Regions from separate parts of the Homo sapiens genome. Here region 1 is linked to region 2. Evidence: fine-mapped expression QTL. Tissue or cell type: whole blood. Region 2 holds a variant in brackets; the other region holds the start of a gene. All regions are shown on one strand. Distances are from middle to middle.

Region 1 (2,758 bases), 20 kb before region 2:
CAGGCTCGCAGCTTTTGGGGGGGGACTCTCCGCCCTCTTCCCCCCTCTCCATGGCACAACGGGCTCCACCACCACTCCTCCGTGGGGCCGGGGAGCTGCGCCCGAGCCTCAAGGCTAGGGAGTGGGGTGGGGGAAGGGAGAGGAGGAGGGGGCGGCTCCTCCAAGCGAGACACAAAGAGACGTCCTTCAGCCTCGGCTCCATGGCGACGCTGGGGAAGGGGGAGCGCGCAACCCGATACTTCCTTCCCCACCTGCAGGGCTATGGGGACCTCGGTGGCCACTCACCTGCCGCCCCTCACCTGGGCCCGGCTTACCTGGGCTGGGGCCGCGGGGACGCCGCGGCAGGGGGCCTGGGCGCCGTCGCGGTCTTCGTCTGCCCGGCCCCGGGGGCTCAGGGCGCCACGACCATGGACCGGGGTGCAAGCGGTGCCGCCAGGGGCTCAGTCGCCCAAGTCCTGGAGCTTTAGGGGGGGGATCCCCGAGGCTTCTTGCTGGTGAGAGTGTCTCTTGCTGTCCCCGGCTGCCTAGATTTGGGATTTCTATGTACCGGAGTTGGGGGGAATTGGGATCCCCTGATCTAGGGGCGTTCTGAGCTGGGTCTTCTTGTCTTGAGGTGTGGAGTTGTAATGACCGGATCTTGGGAGGGGGTTCTCGCAATCCCGGCCTGGGGGCACTGCGTTCTAGGTCTTGGGGCGGGGGCCCAGACTGAGGAGGGGGAGTCCTTGCGGTGCCGTAGGGGGCTTGCTGTCTTCTAAATACCGAGGAAGTCTCCGCTTTCCCCGCAGGGGAGTCGCTCGGTGTCGGATCCGGGAGGGCCCCCCCTCTTCCCCGAGGCTCGCCGGATCCTGGATGTGGAAGGGGGCTCCCCGCACTCCTCGGCTGCGGGGGCTTTAGTGGGTCCCGGCCACCGGCGGGCGCTGGAAGCCCCTCAGCCGCTGGGGGGCTCGGTCGCCGCCGCTACGAGCAGCCCGGCCCTGCGCTCCCGGCCCCCGGCCTGGCCCGGGCTCCGGCTGCGGCTCCAGCTCGCGCTCCGCCTGGCGCTCGGGCCCCGGCCCCGGCGCCCGCCCGGGCTGCGCTCCATCGCGGCATCGCGGCTCCGCCCTCCAGCCAGCGCGCACCTGCCCGCCCGGCCCGCGGCTCCGCCCTCCGGCTCGCGCGCCGCCGCCCGCCCCTTTGTCCGTCCCGCTCGGCGCGCGCCCTCGCGCAAGCGCGCTCACCCGCCGCGCGCCCGCCCTCCCGCCGCGCGCCGCGGAGCGCAGATTCTCCCCGCGCGGCGCCCCCACCCCCTTCCGGCCGCGCTGGGTCCTAGCGCCGGTGGCTCCCGAGCTGGCTCCCACCCCCCACCCCCCACCCACCCCACTCCTTTTCTAGGTCAGAGCCCACGAGGGGGCGAGAACGAGGTTACAGAGGACTCGGGGGAGTCTGAGAGGGTCACCTGGTCCAGCTTTCTGGGCCCTGCGGGACGAGACTGCCCCAGACTGTCCCGGTCTGTGCTAGTGGGGCGGAGCCTGTGTGTGTTTGAAGGAGGGAAAACAAATCCAGGTTCTGCATTCGGATATGCATTTCATTCATCCATGCGTCCGCCTGCCTGCCTGCGCTTCCATCCATCCATCCATCCGTCCGTCCATCCATCCATCCATCCATCCATGCATCCTATTTCCAGCGAGACGTCAGAGAACTCACAGTCTTCTTGGGGAAGAGGTCATAAACTTGGGCCTGGGTGGTTGCCCTATCCAACTGAGGTCGCCTTTGCGATCCCTGCTGCAAATAGGCAGTGACTAGTCCAGGAGTGCAGCTGGGAGGAACTGCTCGCCGGATAGAAGGGAAGAAAGGAGATTCTAGGCAGAGGTACAGCAGGTGTAAGGGATGTTGCATTGTCTGTTTGATAACCGGAAATTGGTGGCCTGGATGAAGTGGGTGGATGGGGACAGAGATGAGATAGGGACAGCTCGTCCTTCCAGGCCCTGTTCTTTCTCCTCCCTGCAGCTCACTCTTTCCCTAGTGAGAAAGCCCCAATAGGACGCCTTCCCTATTTCTTTCTTTTTTTTTTGTTTTTTTAGCTTCAAGCTTCAAAAGCATTTCTTTTTCATTCTTTTTTTTAATTATTATTATACTTTAAGTTTTAGGGTACATATGCACAACATGCAGGTTTGTTACGTATGTATACGTGTGCCATGTTGGTGTGCTGCACCCATTAACTCGTCATTTAGCATTAGGTATATCTCCTAATGCTATCCCTCCCCCTTCCCCCCACCCCACAACAGTCCCTGGTGTGTGATGTTCCCCTTCCTGTGTCCATGTGTTCTCTTTGTTCAATTCCCACCTATGAGTGAGAACATGCGGTGTTTGGTTTTTTGTCCTTGCGATAGTTTGCTGAGAATGATGGTTTCCAGCTTCATCCATGTCCCTACAAAGGACATGAACTCATCATTTTTTATGACTGCCCCTATTTCTTCTAAGTTTTTGATCAGGCTGTTTTCTCAACCCAGCGTAATCCTCCCAGCCACTCCCGACTGTTTCCAGAGCTTTAGGAGCCAGGGATTGCAAACGCAAGTACCTACAGGCGCAGACATGAGCGACTGGGGTCGCATGTAAAGTGATAGAGAGGGTGGAGAAGAGGGGAACTGGAGACATCGTGGGCTGTGCGTGGCTGGATGATATTCAAAGAGAAGCAGGACATCCAGAAATCTTCCAACTTTTAAATGTTTGAAACGAATTCCCAAAATTCGGAAATATTGAATGGGCCAAATGAAACACA
Region 2 (2,758 bases):
TGAGACCAGCCTGGCCAAAATGGTGAAACCCCATCTCTACTAAAAATACAAAAATTAGCTGGGCATGGGGGCTCACGCCTGTAATCTCAGCTACTTGGGAGCCTGGGGCAGGAGAATTGCTTGAACCCAGGAGGCGGAAGTTGCAGTGAGCCGAGACTGCGCCATTGCACTCTAGCTTGGTCAATAAGAAAGAAACTCTGTCTCAAAAGAAAAAAAAAAAATCTGAAAGAGAGGCCAGGTGCGGTGGCTCACACCTTTAATCCAGCACTTTGGGAGTTCAAAGTGAAGGGACTGCTTGAGGCCATGAGTTCGAGACCAGCCTGGGCAACATAATGAGACCCTGTCTCTAAAAAAAGAAAAAAATAATTCTCAAAATGGTATTAGCACTCCTGTGTTCTTTACAACAATATTCACAATAGCCAAATGTAGAAATAACCCAAATGGGTTGAATGGATGAAAAAAATGTGATCTATACATGCAACAGGGACTACTACAATTAAGCCTTAAAAATATGCGATGACAGGCCAGGCATGGTGGCTCACGCCTGTAATCCCAGCACTTTGGGAGGCCGAAGTGGGTGGATCACAAGGTCAGGAGTTCGAGACCAGCCTGGCCAATATGGTGAAACCCTATCTCTACTAAAAATACAAAAATTAGCCAGGCGTGGTGGGGCATGCCTGTAGTCCCAGCTACTCAGGGGGCTGAGGCAGAAGAATCGCTTGAACCTGGGAGGCAGAGGTTGCAGTGAGCCAAGATCATGCCACTGCACTCCAGCCTGGGTGACAGAGTGAGACTCCGTCTCAAAAAAAAAAAAAAAAAAAAGAAAGAAAGAAAGAAAGAAAAAAAATATGTGACAACATAGATGAAACTCAAGGACATTATGCAAAGCAAAATAAGCCACAGAAGGACACATATCTCATAATTCCACTTATATGGGATATCTAAAGAAGTCTAATTCCTAGATTTTGGTTCTATAGTTGTCAGAGTTGCAGAAGAAATTGGGGAATAGCTCATCAGTAGGCATAAAGATTCAATAAAGCAAGATGAATAAGCTCTAAAGAGCTGCTGTGTAACTCTGTACCAGGGGCTCACACCTGGAATCCCAGCACTTTGGGAGGCTGAGGCTAGAGGACCACTTGAGCCCAGGAGTTCGAAACCAGCCTGGACAACATAGCGAAACTCTGTCCCTATAAAAAATTTAAAAATTAACTGGACATGGTGGCATGCATCTGTAGTCCCAGCTACTCTGGAGGCTGAGGATGGAGGATTGCTTGAGCCCAGGAGATGGAGGCTGCAGTGAGCTGTGATTGTACTCCAGCCTCAGTAACAGAGTAAGACCATGTCTCAAAAAAACAACCATGTATTATACATGTATTGTACATTTAAAAATATGTTAGGAGGACAAATTTCATTAAGTGTCCTTACCACAGTAAAACGAAACTAGCAAATATTCATGTGCAGGATTTTCTGTGGGC[A/G]TAAATTTTCAACTTATTTGGGTAAATACCAAGGAGCACTTGATATTTTCTGCCATTCTGTGGCTTCTCTTCACATTCTCTTGGCAGAGTCTTTTGCAGGGCAGAAATTTTCATTTTAAATTTCTTTCCCTTTTCTGTTCAAAAGTTTCGGTTTTCCTGGATTTGATAACATTTTTTGGAGAGGGGAGTACTTGTTTACCTACATGTTTATATATCAGTCAACCCATATTCTCCCCTACTTGTGTAAATGTCTCCAAAATTCAAAAACATTAGGTATTCTATCAATTTCATCTCCTTGAAGAGATCTCTTCTCTTATTTGAGTGTGAACTGCGAGATTCTCTTCTCCTCTCTCTTACATTCAATTCCTGTTTCCTGGAGTCCAGATGTTACTCTCTTTTTTGGGGGTGGGGGGACGGAGTCGCATTCTGTCACCCAGCCTGGAGTGCAGTGGTGTGATCTTGGCTCACTGCAACCTCCGCCTCCCAGGTTCAAGTGATTCTCCTGTCTCAGCCTCCCAAGTAGCTGAGATTACAGGCGTGTGCCACCATGCCCAGCTAATTTTTGTATTTTTAGTAGAAATGGGGTTTCACCATGTTGGCCAGGCTGGTCTTCAACTCCCGACCTCAGGTGATCTGCCTGCTTTGGCCTCCTAAAGTGCTAAGATTACAGGTGTGAGCCACTACTCCTGGCCCAGGTCTTACTCTTTATTGTTTTTCTTGTTTACTATTTCTTGTTTTACTTGGTTTACTCCCTTATTTTAGTGGAGTACATCCTCCAGTAGCTTTCTCAAGTAAGGGTGCGTAGGCCGGGTGCAGTGGCTCACGCCTGTAATCCCAGCACTTTGGGAGGCTGAGACGGGTGGATCACAAGGTCAGGAGATCGAGACCATCCTGGCTAACATGGTGAAACCCCGTCTCTACTAAAAGTACAAAAAATTAGCCAGGCGTGGTGGCGGGCGCCTGTAGTCCCAGCTACTCGGGAGGCTGAGGCAGGAGAATGGCATGTACCCGGGAGGCGGAGCTTGCAGTGAGCGGAGAGCACGCTGTTGCACTCCAGCCTGGGCAACAGAGCAAGACTCCGTCTCAAAAAATAAATAAATAAATAAATAAATAAATAAATAAATAAATAAATAAGAAAGGGTGCATAGGAGGTAAAATTTTTGAGCTCTTGCCAATCTGAAAATATTGTTTTTTCTACTCTCACTTTATTAGTAGTTTGGCTAAGTATTGAATTCTATGCTGAGGGCTGGGCACAGTGGCTCATGCCTGTAATCCCAGCACTT

Evidence for each region. PIP is the estimated chance that this variant, and not a neighbour inherited with it, causes the effect.
Region 1: SBK1 starts here. The variant in region 2 is fine-mapped to the expression of SBK1 in whole blood (INTERVAL, PIP above 0.99).

Annotation. Positions count from the first base shown.
Region 1 is chr16:28,290,857-28,293,614 of GRCh38, reverse strand. It overlaps SBK1 (SH3 domain binding kinase 1), which reads right to left and starts at 1,090. Exons shown (of 4, transcript NM_001024401.3): 1 at 315-1,090. It overlaps LOC124903670 (a long non-coding RNA gene), which reads left to right and starts at 1,550. Exons shown (of 2, transcript XR_007065033.1): 1 at 1,550-1,848. RefSeq lists silencers at 990-1,219, 1,427-1,598.
Region 2 is chr16:28,270,684-28,273,441 of GRCh38, reverse strand. It overlaps a transcript of SBK1 not described here. Among named protein-coding and RNA genes, the nearest start is that of SBK1, 20 kb to the left of the region's middle. The variant A/G (reference allele first, on the strand shown) is at 1,476.